4 linked regions of the Homo sapiens genome follow. The protein of the gene in region 2 interacts with the protein of the main gene of each other region in a biochemical or structural test. Each region holds a gene or a part of one and is shown on either strand. Other genes may lie near its edges.

Region 1 (3,500 bases), about 59 Mb from region 2:
AAGCCACTGCACCTGGCCAAGGAACCTTAAAATAATGCAATTCTCCTCTGCAGTTTTGGAAGCCTGGCCAGATTATGGGCTTTTGTGATGCACAGAGGGGAAAAAGTGGACATGAACATGCATACTTACATACATGAATCAAGATGACACCTGAGAGACTGACACAATGTGAAAACTAATAAATACAACTAAGCTCTTCAGATACTATCACTTAGTCTGAAAATAAAACTGTCACTAGACTTTACTCTGTATTTAGTACTTAGGCAGTAAGTACTTGTTTTAAAAAACATCTTCTCTGGGTAGGCCTCAGGCAGACGGTACTTCCGACAGGAACATTATACTTGTGGAAACATGAAATTTTTATAGGCTAGAGCTCAGGAAGAATGTATAATCCCTTGGTTAAATATCGCTGCCTAAGGTGTTACCTTTTCTTGATACTATGGGTTTGATATTCTGGTTTTTGTGAAATTAAAGAATGTCGGAAAAAAAAAGAAAAGAAAAAATGTAGTATATACCAGCATCAAAGAAAGGACAAAACCAATGCAAGGTGACTAGACAATTCCAACTAGCTCAAGACCCTTAGGCTGAAATTTGAGTTTAAGTATCTCGCTTTTCCTCCAGTCCTAGCACAACTCAGGTCAAGGAGAAAGTGCTTGTGAAGGTGCCCAAATCTCTTATCATTCATCTCTGTTTTTTTTTTTGGTTAAGCTATGGTTTCACAAAAAAGGCAGCAGAGGTCCTGAATTCAGTTCTCATACGATTTGCTAAGTTTCACTTAATTTAGGCTCTTCTAAATTGCTCTAGAGTAGTTTTGTTATCGAATACAGCAAATTATTAAATAGTTTAAATACGGACTCTTTAACTGTGGCGATTTTTAAAAATTAGTGAGTTAGGCAACACGTTTTCTGACTGTGATGAGATCTGTCCTGGAAGCAGAGGGGTGACTAGAGGATCTCTGAATGTCGCATTTGATCCTGGGATTTATACCACACCAGCATTCCATGACACACATGGTTTTGACTCACAGTTCTGCCCTTCGGGGCTCATGCTTTTTCAGAGTTAACAAAGCAGAAGTCCCAGGACTTTGCTCACATTCCCACACAGAGCACAAGAGTTGAAACAACACTACAGGCTAAAGAGAAATGAAGAGGAGGACAGGAAAATAACAGAATCACACTAACTCTGTCAAGTGGAAAACACCAGCATTACTGGAATGTTTTACTCCCTCAGATTCAAACAAACACCATTTTCCAATGAAAAGAACTGGGGCTTCTTAAAGAAATGACTAGTTCCAGATCTGGGGTAGGAAATACACAAGATGAACATTGAACATCTTCAAAGAATATCAGGGTTAGGTCAAAAAGACGCTGGAGTCAATCTCAAAGGGCTCCCACTGACCAAAGATGTGACATGTTGATCACCAATTTGACCATCAAAAGAATAATGATGGAAATGAATTGAAACATTTCATACATGTTAAGATCCATGAGTTGAAGACGCAGTCAGCCAGATCCAGTATGTAGAAAAGACAGATGGCTTAGTTTCTTTGACAAATAAGAACTAAGACAGATGGCTTAGTTTCTTTGACAAATAAATAGCAATAAAAAAGGGGTGGGGGGGCAGTTACAGATTAAAATGTAATGGTGGACCTTGTTTGAACCTGATTCAAACAAACCAACTGTTAAAAGGTATTTATGAGACAATAAGGTAAATATGAACACTGACTGATTATCAGATGATATTAAGGAATTGTTAGGCCGGGCACGGTGGCTCACGCCTGTAATGCCAGCACTTCGGGAAGCCGAGGCAGGAGGACTGATTGAACCCAGGAGTTCCAGACCAGCCTGGGCAATGCAGCAAAATCCTATGTCTATTAAAATAAATACAAAAATTAGCTGGTCGTGGTGGTGTGTGCCTGTAGTCCCAGCTACTTTGGAGTCTGAGGCAGGAGGATTGCTTGAGCCCAGGAGGTTGAGACTGTGGATGAGCCATGATTGTGCTACTGAACTCCAGCCTTAGCAACAGAGTAAGAATGTGTCTCAAAACAAACAAACAAACAAAAAAACAGAAGGAAATGTTCATTTTTTAGGTATTATAATTGTATTGTGGTTATGTGGAAAAAAGAGTTCTAATCTCTAAGGATGCTTACTGATGTTTTTATGAATGACATAATATGATATCTGGGATTTGCTTTAAAATTATACAGTTGGGAGAGGAGGAAACTTGAGGGTTTAGATAAAACAAGATTGGTGACATGTAAATAATGTTGAAGCTGGATGATGGGTATGGGGAGTAACTATACTGTTCATTTTTGGGTATGTTTGAAAAATCCCATAATAAAAGTTAAAAAAACAAACAAATACTGTATGCATGTTTATTTGCCACTAGAAGTTAAGGGCAAGGGTTTTTGCTTTTTTCTTTTGTCCTAGTTCTGAAGGGGAAAATGTTCTTGCATGCTTGTGTGAAGATTGTCTTATATTTAGATAATTTATTTGGTATCAACTCTTCAAAAGCTTTTCTGGAATATGGAAGCATTGGTGTATGAAAAAACCTTACCATCTTTTTGAGCACCTACTATGTGCCAGATACTTCACTTGCCTTAGTTCATATAATTCTAACATTTCTATGACATGAGCATTATAACTACCATTTTATAAATGACAACATGGAGGCACAGAGAGGCTAAGTAACTAATCCAAAGTCACACAGCTATGAAGTAGAGGAGCCAGGGTTTGAACCTAGGTCTGCCCAGCTCCAAAGGTCATACCTTTTGACCACTCCACGCTATTCTCTCCTTAAAAACTTGTGATTCATGACCTACTTCTAAAAGAGTACCATCTTTTTCTCTTTGCATGTCACCAAACAAATGAATCTGCCCATCCTTTTAGCTACAGTAGGCAGTATGTGGACATGTGAATGGCTAGCTTAACGTGATGATGCCCAAAGCTTGGGAATTCTGGAGTCCTACTGACTTTGGCTGCACACCAACCACACATGCCAACAACTTGGTCCTTACACACAGGAGAGAGATAGCAGGGAGATATTCAAGGACAAAACAGAAAAATACATCTTTAAAACACTGTTCTAGATGGAGCAGATGCAAGAGCAGTAAGTGAACAAAAATCTCTGCTACAGAAAAAGCAGAATTAAAGACAAAATTCTTTTTTTTTTTTTTGATACAGAGTCTCACTCTGTCTCCCAGGCTGGAGTGCAGTGGCACGATCTTGGCTTGCTGCAACCTCTGCCTCCTGGGTTCAAGAGATTCTCCTGCCTCAGCCTCCTGAGTAGCTGGGATGACAGTTGTGCACCACCATGCCCGGCTAATTTTTGTATTTTTAGTAGAGACAGGGTTTCACCATGTTGGCCAAGCTGGTCTCCAACTCCTGACCTTAAGTGATCTGCGCCTCAGCCTCCCAAAGTGCTGGGATTACAGGCATGAGCCACCGTGCCCAACCTAAAGGTAGAATTCTTGACTGACTGGGGTTCAGAAGAAGCTGCCA
Region 2 (4,253 bases):
CTCCTCTGTGACTCCGGGTCATTCCTCTAGCCTTGAGCACAGGCCAGGCTTCAGAGTGAACTCTGGTTGTCTCTCTCCCCCACTGTGCCCAGTCACCCTGCAGGAATTTAGCAAATGCTTTTCTCTTTCTGCCTACAAGGCTGCTTTAGCATTCTGAAGGAAAGGACGTGGTAATGCCTGATAAAAACCCTTTCTCAGTTAGGTCAGTGTGCAGGCTGTGCATCCCAAATCCTGAAGGTCAGGGAGAGCAGGAAGGGAGAGCAGGAAGGGTCACTCAGCCCTCTCACTACAGTGCTCAAATGCCACGTCATAATACTGGGATTATGAAAATCGGTTGTGGAGTGCAGACATAGGGATTTGTGACTCCAGCAACTATCAGAAATTCTGAGTCCTGTGACCCTCTCCTCCACAGTTCTGGCGGTGGGGGTAAGGGTTTTGGTGAGAGCTCCATGGACCTATGACACAAATTGCTCTTTCTAGAATTCGGACTCTCCTGGATCCTTCTGGGTGCAAGGACTCCCACTTGCAAAGCGGACCTCTCCCCCCGCCCCTACTCCTGCCCCCACCCCCAGCCTCAGCAGAGATTTCTGGGTGACTCAGGGTAAGCTGGAAAATTTGCTTTTGTTCAGCCTTTGTGGCTGAAAACCTGCTTTGCAAAAGTGCTGGCCCCTCATCTGATTTGGAGAGTTTTAGGATTGTGGAGGGGGAGAGGAGCCCCCAGCCCTCAGGGATGGAGTGGGAGGCCCTAGGGGGTGGGTTAGAGGTTTAGTAGAGGGTGATTGGATTGTGTGCTGATCTCCTGAGGCCCCTGCACGTTTCTACAAGGCTCCGTAAAGCCTTTCTCACACTTGCCTAGCTATAGTTTTTCTCTATATGTGGAAAAGTTTAGCCAGGAAAAGAGCAAGCCTATTTACTGAGGGCTCTGTCCTTTTTAGGTATCACTGCATCCTTTACCCTGCTTTCTTCCCCTGCAAGGTCTCAGAAACTTGTTTGGTTAATAGAGTGGTTTTCAGCTCTTAGACGAGTGAGATTTAACTTGGAATTCCCCTGTCATTCTTAGCCCCCAAACTGGAAGCCCTGAGGAGCTTGGAGCTCCTTTCCCAGCTCATTTGACACTTGGCCCCCACCCAAAAGGATTTTTGGGTATTTTCTTTGAATTTGGTCTGCAAGGCAAGGGGTAGGGACAAGCAAGTTAATTTAGGTGTCTGTGAAGGAAGGCAGTGGGGTCAGCTCAGTTCCAGTGGATTTCTGAATTCCCCTAATTTCAGCCTGACAGTGTAGCCCCTAGACGGGGATGGGGGGTGCTGGGTAGGGGTGTGCACTGCTTTCGCAGACACTGTGAAGGCCTTTGCGCCGGTGGGGGCCAGCTGGTGGAGGGCACTTGCCCAGACTGAGAATAAAGTGCGTCCTGTTTCTGGGGGAGGGGAAGAGGGGCCAATGGTCTGTGGCAAATATTTGGTAGCCGCTTTGCCAAGGGCTCCCTTCCTGGCCAAGAGCATATTGATGAGGAGGCAGCGGTGCTGGCCTCAAGTGGTTAATTGGGAAGGCGGAGGAGCAAGAAACTAAGTGTTCTCTCACTCTGCCCCAGTTTTTCCAACATTCCCCACATCCCCACCAAGCAGGGCTCCAGCCATGTGGCACATTAACCCCAGCAGAGCACTTTCTGCAGTACTGCTCCGTATTGGGGACCCACAAGGAGTACAGTCGGTGAGGGAAGCTCGTGGAGCGTTCTCAAAATAAAATCTCTAGGAGCCAAAAACTTGCGGTCCACTTGTCTCTGACTGGAACAAGGCTCTGAAGGAGACTCAGGATTTAAGATAGTGTTTGCATTAGTCCTCTATCCAGTGACAGGAAGGCAGCACGCCTCACAGTTTGGGTGTGAGTGTGTTTTAAGTGATTTCAGTCTAGGTTTTCTGAGTTGGCACAAGGGAACCCTTTAACCCTTGATGGCCCTAGCAGAGTGGGTGGCCCATGGTACAAATAGGGAGACTGCTCATTTGAATCCTAGCAAGGGTGAACTTGGAGGCGCTGTTCCGGAGCGGGACAGTGACCCCCCTTCCCGACTGTCTTCCAGAGTGTCTCGCCAGCGTCCTAAGGACTCTCTGGGCAATTACAAAGGCTTTTCCAGGGCCTTGACAAAGTCGGAGAGAAATGTTTGTTAGCCCGACCCAGGCCCAGGCTGTGCCCTGGCATTGGGTTGACAGCAGTGCGCACCCCCTCAAGGTGAGGAGCGAGAACTCACATAACCATCTTCTCCTCGCAGTGCGGGTACTTTGGCTTCATTTCCAGCTTCTTCACGTCGCTGTAGCGGATCTTGGGTCCCTTCCGGGAGCACTTGCATTTGGACCCTGCGAGCGAGCGCGGGGCAACGGCTTAGTTGCTAGGCGGTCTCCTGCCCCTCGACCACCTTGGTGCCCACCCAGACCACCCCCCGCGGGATCCCAGGATGCCTAGAAATTGGCGCTTGGGTTCCCCAGGACAGGACAAGACGAGACGGCGACAAGGGGAGCTCCCCGCACTCACCGTCCACACGCGCGGTGTACAGCGCCAGCAGCAGCAGGAGCAGCGCGGCCGCCAGGAGCCTCATGCTGACCGGAGGGGCGCGGCGTGGGAGCAGGGACATGGGGAGGGCGCTGGCCCGTCGGAGCGGCGGCCCGGAGACGCCACCCAGCTCTGCTCGGCTTTCTCTGCCCGGGGCGCGCCTTCCGGCTCTGCTGGCTCCGGCTGCGCCGTCGGTGGATGCCCAGGGCTGTCTGTGGCCGTGCGCTGCGCTCTGCGCTTGTCTCCGCGCTCTCTCCACAGCCTCCCTCCGCCCGCCCTGGCCTCTTTTAAATCCGCTCCTGCCCTCGCAGCGAGCGAGCTCATTAATATGCAGAACCACTCGGTGACTCACTGAGATTTCTCAATGTGGTGAGGGGAGGAGACCTTCCCAGCCCGCCCGTCGCCCGCCCCGGGAAAGGACCCGCTATCGCAGCGGCGCACACCCGGAGCCACGCGCGCACACGCACACACACATCCGCTACCCTCTCGCTCACACAACACGCCGCCTTCGCACACTTGCACACCCATACCACAGCGCGCACACATTTCCAGCGTCCCGCTCTGCCTTTGGGGAGCCCAGACGGTGGAGAGGCTGCTGAAGGGCACTGCTTTTCTGAATCGTGTGGTTCTCTCTCTGGCCCGGCAGGCCAGCTTTTCCGAGCCGGCGGGAGACCCAGGCCCAGGGCTCAGATCCTCAAAGACCTGAAAGGGTTTTGGAGCAGGTGCCAAGTGTGAGTGCCTGCAGGCCTGACCCCCAAGGGCCCCTGCTGGGCCAGAACACAAGGCCAGTTCTGGACAGGGGCTTGTCATAGACTGTCCAGCAGCAAAGTCATTGACTGTGATCACTGGAACTGACTCAAAGAGGGTATGTGTGTGTATGCGGGGGTGGGGACGGGTATTGGGGAGGAGTTTTGGTGACTCCCAAAGGAAAGCTCCTTAAAGTGGGTCAGTGGCCTGGTGGCTGTGTGAGTGTCTGGGTGGTGGGGAGAACCAGGAGGAGTCCTCACTCTCACACTACTCTCCAAAGCCAGGTAGAGAGCCCTAGTGGAGAGCGATGACAGTGGTAACCATCTGGATGAAGGCCTTCCCATGTTCTAGACATTGTGCCAGAATGCGAGGTATAGTGGTGTGAGCCCAGCCATAGTGGCAGAAATTCCCTCCTCACTACTTTCCAGCACAAGTGACTTTACCGCTCTCAGCTTTTGTTTCATCATCTGTAAAGTGCAGATCATCACAGTGTTTCTGATAGGGTGGCTGTGAGAACTATAGAAATCATACATGTTGTCAGTACCCAGGAAATGTTACTTATTGGCACCATCGTTTTATGTCTAATTTATCTATTACTTTGATTCTTACCAATTGGTACTTTTCTTCCAAGTTGGTACTTTTAATTTCTTTATTTGACAGGTGTGGAAACATGCTCTGAGAGAAGAAATAACTTGTCCAAGGTCACAGAGCTAGGAAGCAGGTGACTAGGCCAGGAGGGTCCTCAGTATATACGGCTGCAGAACTGGGACTCCTGTCCCTGGACCACTCTGTTGCTTTGAGGCCTGTCTGCCCTTCACTTCTTGCTGCCTTGAGAGACCCAGAGACAGGAGGTGGATCATCTCAAGCTCTTGGAGTCCCTGGGCTTGGCTGTCAGGAGAGAGCTCACCCAGCTCTATGCCATCAGCCTGGCAGTTCCCTGGAGGCAAAAATGCCCAGAGGGCTTC
Region 3 (3,500 bases), on a different chromosome or scaffold from region 2:
TACATGTAGTGCACAAGGCAACACTATCATAAATATTTGACTTCCATTACTTCTGCTACATTTCTGGTTGAAGAAGACCATTTTATCGGAGTGAAGTAATTCTGGGCTGGGACACAAGACTTAGGCTCTGTCTTCAGCTCTGTCATTAACTGGCTTTGCAGTGTCATTGTGTTGACACTGACTCAATGACTCCAAATGCCATATTCTTTACCACTAGGCGACAGTGCACATTTGAAGTCACATAGGATTGGAATACATGTATATTTTTCAGTCCATATGGAATTAAACCCCATATTTTGACTTACTTAATATCCTCAGAGTGTAACTGGACAGCTTTGCAGAGGTCTTTGTGGATATCTGGGCTCTGTAAGAGCCTGTGTCTTCCATCTTCAGGTTGCTGAGTTGCAGGGAGTAGGACTGGGTGAAGTTCAGTCGCTTTCCCTGTTTCGGATTAGTCACGTGGATTTCTGGACTTTTGGTTTCATGGGGTACTATGAAGGCAAGAGATGTTTCATTGAAAAGCCAAGTGATGAAGTTGACCTTCTCTCCTGCAGGAAACTCCAGGGGAAGAGTTACTGACTCCCCCAGAATCCCGTTCACCATCAATGGGGTTAAGCTGCTTTGTGAAACTACATTCCCTGTAAACACAGAAGGAAAGGTTTTAAAAATGTTCCTGACCATCTCCCTGCCAAGTCCTGCACCCTTTCACCTAACGCTGCCAGTCTGTTAGAGCTCTCTGATACCAAAACTCAGAGATATGACAGAGTAGGAAAGGGTAGGAGATGTTTCTAAATGAATAATCACAGTCCCAGAGCTTCACCTCCAGCAAAATGTCAGCCACTCTTGGTTAGTAGGCAGCTAGTCTAGATGAAACCGGCCCAGTCCACGCTGGGTCCTACACTGGCTGGTCACTCCTAGGTCATAACTATACTTTGTGATCCTAGCCTCTGAAGTCCTTGGACATTAGGTTGAGGGGGACAGGAAACTATAGACTCCAAAAACTGCAAGTCTTTGCTAATAAAGCATAATTAAAGCCTGATATTTACTGATTACTTACTGTGTGTCCAACATAGTAGGCTTGTGCAACTTAGAAGGCTGGTAACAGGGACTAATATCAGGGATTTATAGGATAGTCAGTTCTTCTTATATATTATTTCATTGACGCTGACTACAGTCTGTGAGGCAGGCAGGATGGATATTATTACTTCCATTTATAGATAAAGGAACTGAGCTACAGAAAAGTTAACTAATTTTCCCAGGGTTGCACAGCTAAAGAATAGCAGAGTCAGGATTCAAACCCAGGTCTTCTGACTCCAGTGACTTTGTGCTGTCTTCATGATACCAGAAGATTTTTTTTTAATTCTCTCAGAAAGATTATAGTTTAGTTATTGAGGAGACAAAATGGATACATATAGAAATAATAAATATAATTTCAAAGTAACACATGATGGCCACATTCTTGTGAACTTATTCAGAACTATCAATGTTTAAGCAAAAACGGTGAAATGGTCACAATGATTCTTAAAGAAGATGCTTCCTTAGCATCCTTTCCCAAATTCTTAGCAATTATTACACTATTTTGTAGTTTTGTTCACCTGTTTGTCTAACTGACCACGCCTTAATTAGCCTTGCATGTCAGTACTCAGCACCATGTCTGACACATAGTAGAGTCTGTGGAAATGTTCTAGTGGGTCAATGAATGAATAACTATAACAATTACCTCAACCTTCTCAGGATCTCTTGCTTCTTTTTCTTAAAAATTTCAACTTTTATTTTAGATATGGGGGTACATGTGCAGATTTGTTACATGGGTATATCACACCCAGATAGTGGACATAATAACTAATAGGTAGTTATTCAACCCATTACCTGTTCCCTTCCTTCCCCCTCTAGTAGTCCACAGCGTCTATTAATCCCATATTTATGTCCATGTGTGCTCAGTGTTTAGCTCCCACTTATAAGTGAGAGCATGTAGTATTTGGTTTTCTGTTCCTGTGTTGGTGTGCTAGGATTATGGCCTCCAGCTCCACCCGTGTTACTGCAAAAGACATGATTTAATTCTTTTTTATGGCTGGTTAGTATTCCATGGTGTATATATACCAAATTTTCTTTATCCAATCCATCATTGATTGGAACCTAGGTTGATTCTGTGTCTTTGCTATTATGAATAGCATAGTATGAACATACAAGTGCATGTGTCTTTTTGGTATAATGATCTATTTTCCTTTGGCTATATACCCAGTAATGGGATTGCTGGGTTGAATGGTAGCTCAGTTTTAAGTTTTTTGAAAAATCTCCAAACTGCTTTCCACAGTGAAAATTTATATTTCCCAATAACAGTGTATAACTGTTTCCTTTTCTCTGCAACCTCACCAAGTGGGACCTAGCACCTGTTTTTTTTTTATTTTTTGACTTTTAATAATAGACATTCTGAAAGAATGAAGGGTCCAGTTTCAATCTTCTGCATATGGCTATACAAAAATACAAAAAAGTGTATTAGTGTATTCTGAATTTTCTGTTCTCTTCCAGCTGTCATTCTGACAGAATGGCTATTATTAAAAAGTCAAAAAAGTGTTATTTGTCCATTTTCACACTGCTGATAAAGACATACTCAAGACTAGTAATTTATAAAGGAAAGATGTTTAATTGACTCACAGTTCCCCATGGCTGGGGAGGCCATGGCACTCACAAGCATGGTGGAAGGTGAAGGAGGAGCAAAGTCACGTCTTACATGGTGGCAGGCAAAGAGAACATGTGCAGGGGAACTCCCCTTTATAAAACCATCAGAACTCATGAGACTTATTCACTATCATGAGAATAGCACAGGAAAGACCTACCCCCAGATTCAATTACCTCCTACCAGGTCCCTCCCATGACATGTGGGAATAATGGGAGCTCTACAGTTCAAGATGAGATTTGGGTGGGGACACAATCAAACCATATCAAAAACCAAACCAGCATCTATTGTGTTCTTTTTTTTGACTTTTTAATAATAGCCATTCTGACTGGTGTGAGATGGTATTTCATTGTGGTTTTGATTTGGATTTCTCTGATGATTACTGATGCTGAGCATTTTTTCATGTTTGCTGAGTGCTTGTATATCTTCATTTAAGAAGTGCCTGTTCATGTCCTTTGCCCATTTTTTAATGGGGTTATTCGTCTTTTTGCTTATTGGTTTAAGCTCCTTATAGATTCTGGATATTAGACCTTATGTTGGGTACATAGTTTGCAAATATTTTCTCTCATTCTGTAAGATGTCTGTTTACGGTAATGATAGTTTCTTTTGCTGTGCAGAAGCTCTATAGTTTACTTAGGTTCCACTTGTCAATTTTCGTTTTTGTTGCAATTGCTTTTGGGGACCTAGCCAAAAATTCTTTGCCAAGGCCAGTGTCAAGAAGGGTATTTCCTATTTTTTTCTAGGATTTTTATAGCTTGAGGTTTTACATTTAAATATTTGATCCATCTTGAGTTAATTTTCGTATATGGTTAAAGGTAAGGGT
Region 4 (3,939 bases), about 92 Mb from region 2:
TTAAAACAAAAGGTAAACGTTTTAGGATGCAAGCAGCAAATCTCTAGCAAGTATTGGTGTGATTCAGTAGCCATTGTACTCTGAGAAAGAAGGTTGTCAGTGGGAAGGCAATTTGGGACTCACTGCAGCAAAACCTCCTAACTTGAATCTGCTGGGCACAAGTGAGCCTTAATCTTAATGTACAATAAAACAGCCAGGCCCACAAAGTCCTAGATTGTGGGTTTAAATAATCAGGCTCAGGGCCACCGAAACAGGATGATAGACATGTTTATGGATTCAGTATTGAGTTCTGGGAGCCAGCAGCCACGTCAGCAGAGGTGGAGTGTGCCCTACCTTTGGGCAGAATCCAAGGCTTTTAATTATAGATAAAGTCACCTGCTTCCTGATTTATGCAAAACACTTAGGGAATGCCAGTTATTGAGCCATCACAACAAGATAGCCATTTAAGACACCATTAAGATAAGGGAACAGCTTTCTGCCTCAAGGAAACAAAATATATTTCCCAAAGTTCCAAACTGGCACAGGCCTTTTTCCTATTCCCCTTGCCAAGGCCACCTGTCCTCTTCTCTGCACTGTTGAGTTGTTGAGTGTTCTCTACCTTCCTCCCTCCCCACTTGGTTTTCCACCCCCTCCCTGGAGCCAGAATCACTTAAGTGCCTCCCACAGGGCACCTGGCTTACATGGACACTTGAGTGGAAGTTTGTTAAGAATAGCTGTGGCGTTGCCCCTCTATTCCACGACTGTTCTCAGGCCTACTTGTGTATTTTTACCCAGTATCACTTATTTTTAAATGACAGAAGTTTGGAGCTTCTCAGGCAATGTGATTTTCCTGTGGCCTAAACTGCCTTAGGTAAAGCATCGAGACTAACCCAAAAGGCTATTGCTGGGTCTCTCGGCTCCCTTCCTTATTATCACCAGCAGCCGTACCTTTTCACACACCTCTGCATTTTGCCGTTCCACCCCACCGTCTCTACCAGGACTCAGTCCCATGTGAAGGTGGGTCCTGGGTATGGCAGAGCCTTCCTCATTACCCTCTGCCTCCTCGACCTGCTGTTCCCTCCCTCCTTTCCTGTAGGAGAGCTGCCGCTGTGGGGACAGGTGGGAGTAGGTCAGGAAGCTGGATGGAGGTACACATTTCAAAGTTTTATGTAAAAAATTTGAGTTGGTGGAATTACCAGAACTAGGAGTGAAGCCTTAGCAGGTAGGCCTTTCAGAAATAGTGAAAATGAGTCCCCAAATCTCAATGGTGAATTTTTCTGAGAAATGTTACAGAAACATAAAGTGACAAATTTTTGTCTTTATATTGATAAGATAGATAGATTAGTAGAAATTGAGAAGAGATTGTCCAGGTTTTTTCTGTTGCTTATTTGTATAAGCCCAGTACATTGACGGACTATATTGGGAGTCCCTAAGCAAATGCCTGCAGGGACCAGGCAGTTAATACAGCAAACTTCAGAGGCTCATCTGCTTTAGCCAGTTCTTGCCATGGTATGGTGGAATCATTGTTGCCACATCTGATTTCTCAAGAGAAGCTTTAAAATCCAATTTGTATGTGTGTATGTATGAGTATGTACATGAGAAAGCTTTCAGTTTTAAAATGTTGGCTCAGATTTTTAAAAAGCAGACCAAAGACTTATATTCCACCTCTGCTCTAGACTTAGAGAATCTGTTCAGGATAAAGCTTAAAGAAAAGATGACAATGGAAAAGAGTCATTGGTCAAGTATTAAGTACTGACACTTAGGGTTTCCTGAATATAGTAGTGAGTGCTACTTTAGAAGAGATTCCCTCTAGTTCAAATGCAGTTACAATCTCCAAATACATGCTAGCAACTCACGATTTAAATTCTCTTTGACATAATTTGTATGGTTCAATCTCCCTCATCCTGCTTTTCTTCTTTTTCTTTCTTTCCTTTCCTTTCTTCCTTTCCTTCTCTTTCCCCTCCCCTCCCCTCTTTTTGTTTTTAACAGATGGGGTTTTACTATGTTGCCCAAGCTGGAGTGCAGTGGCAATTCAGAGTGCAGTGGCAATTCACAGTGTGATCATAGCTCACTGCAATCTTGAATTCCTGGCCTGAAGCTATCCTCCAGCCGTAGCCTCCCAAGTAGGTGGGAATACAGGCATGCACCACTGTGCTCAGCTCTGCCCTCCCTTTTTAAAGGTCAGACTGAAGTTTCAGTTTTCTGTATCCATAGAGCTGACTTTGCTCAGGAAATTTACAACTTACCTAATTTGAACGCAGCTGGCCAAGTCTGTATTTCCCTCCAGGAATGTGCACAGTTGTGTTCAGACCGTTTAGCAGGTTGGGGTGTGGAGGAAGACAGATGAATAGTAGGGGCTTTACTCCAGCCTCTAGCTGGGGATTTTCTAAGATACTGTCTTCAGAAAAGGAAACATAGCTCGAAGTTGTACCTACATGGAAGGACCTCATCCTCCAGGTGGCAAAAATTTGTAGTATGCCTGTTAGAATGAGGTTCCTTCCTGAAACTTCTGGGAGATCTAGAATTTAAAGCTATGTCATTCTCTTGTAGGTAATCAGAAATCAATTGGAAATTCCTGCTTGAAGAGATAGATATTCTTGCCCCACCTCAATCCTTCCAGCACAGATTTGGGAGATACCCCCCTTTCCAGTGAAGGCCTAAGTGTCCAGTGCCCCCACTCACCTTCTGAGGCATGTAGGGCCGCACAGACAGCCAAGGCCACGATGGCGAGTCCTCTCTGCTGCATTCCTGCCTGCCCTACTGGCACTGACAGCAACACAAGTGAGGCTGTTCGATCAGGAAATGAGGCTAAAGGTGTCCTTGGGCACAGAGAAAGTGCAGAGGAAAAGTAAGCCAGGTGGCCCCGCCCTGGGAGGTGTTCAGGGTATCTATTTCTCATGTTTCTTTCCTTAAGACCAGGCTCCTCCTCGACTTATTAAGCTCCTAACTTGTGTTCATCCTGCCTGGGGGTCAGGGGATGTCAATGGAGATCTGGCAGCTGGCAGGGTCACTGTGAGGTGGGGTGTGCATCAGAATCATTTGGGGAACATTAAAAAAAATCAATCTAAATGACTCTCCCCTTTCCCTGATTTGTAAACCAGAACTCCCAGGTAGGAGACCAGTCATTTGAATTTTGTAAAAGCTCTATAGGTGATTCTGATGGACACTTATGTTGAGACCCATTGCATAATCAGTTTTTAAGTAGCTTATGGAAACCATGAGTTTCTGGGGACAAGGGTGACAAGTCATAAAAAATGTATCTTTGTGGAAAGATATGGAAGTATTAAACCCCACTTTAGTCTTGGTTCACAGCCAAATTGTTTCCAGTGAAGCTTTTTACAATAGCTTATTTAGGAGAAAGACAGGAAGGGGGGCAATGCCTTGTAGAAAAGAGCCCAAGAGCAGGTGTGAAGAGGCATGAGCGCTAGTGCAGCTTTGCTGCCAATCAGCTTTGTGAATAAAAGCATGGGGTAGCATGAAGATAATTGGATTCTAATTGTTCCTCATCTACTAATAAGTTGTATAACCTCAGGCAACGTACTTAACTTTGCTGTAAATAACAAGTCAGACTAGATGACCTCCAAAGTCATGCCATGCTTCCTCTAGAACTGTGTTGTCCTATGTGGTAGCCGCTAGCCCACATGTGGCTCTTGAGCACTTGAAATATGAGTAGTCCAAACTCAGATGTACTATGGGTATAAAATTCACACTGGATTTCAAAGACTGGGTACAGAAAAAAATATAAAATATCTTGTTAATAATGTTTATACTGTTTATTGATTACATGATAGTATTTTGGACTTTTTGGGTTAAATAAAATATATTATTAAAATTAATTTCACCCATTTCTTTTTATGTTTTCAAATTACTGCTGTGGTTTGAATATTTTTTTCTTCTCCAAAGCTCATGTTGAAAATTAATCCCTAATAGTGCTGGGAGATAGGGCCTAATGGACAATGT

Evidence for each region.
Region 1: the proteins of CXCL14 (region 2) and F2R form a complex in vitro, tested with the Homo sapiens proteins (one large-scale study listed by BioGRID).
Region 3: the proteins of CXCL14 (region 2) and SLAMF6 form a complex in vitro, tested with the Homo sapiens proteins (one large-scale study listed by BioGRID).
Region 4: the proteins of CXCL14 (region 2) and CCL28 form a complex in vitro, tested with the Homo sapiens proteins (one large-scale study listed by BioGRID and IntAct).

The regions. Positions count from the first base shown.
Region 1 is NC_000005.10:76,722,626-76,726,125, reverse strand, and holds part of F2R (proteinase-activated receptor 1 isoform 1 precursor), read right to left. Parts: intron 1-3,500. UniProt on the Homo sapiens protein: High affinity receptor that binds the activated thrombin, leading to calcium release from intracellular stores.
Region 2 is NC_000005.10:135,576,192-135,580,444, forward strand, and holds the start of CXCL14 (C-X-C motif chemokine 14 precursor), read right to left. Parts: upstream 2,801-4,253; 5' UTR 2,588-2,800; coding exon 2,524-2,587; intron 2,349-2,523; coding exon 2,243-2,348; intron 1-2,242. UniProt on the Homo sapiens protein: Potent chemoattractant for neutrophils, and weaker for dendritic cells. Not chemotactic for T-cells, B-cells, monocytes, natural killer cells or granulocytes. Does not inhibit proliferation of myeloid progenitors in colony formation assays.
Region 3 is NC_000001.11:160,495,756-160,499,255, forward strand, and holds part of SLAMF6 (SLAM family member 6 isoform 1 precursor), read right to left. Parts: exon of another isoform or gene 821-3,500; intron 639-820; coding exon 306-638; intron 1-305. UniProt on the Homo sapiens protein: Self-ligand receptor of the signaling lymphocytic activation molecule (SLAM) family.
Region 4 is NC_000005.10:43,409,592-43,413,530, forward strand, and holds the start of CCL28 (C-C motif chemokine 28 isoform a precursor), read right to left. Parts: upstream 2,801-3,939; 5' UTR 2,726-2,800; coding exon 2,662-2,725; intron 1-2,661. UniProt on the Homo sapiens protein: Chemotactic activity for resting CD4, CD8 T-cells and eosinophils. Binds to CCR3 and CCR10 and induces calcium mobilization in a dose-dependent manner.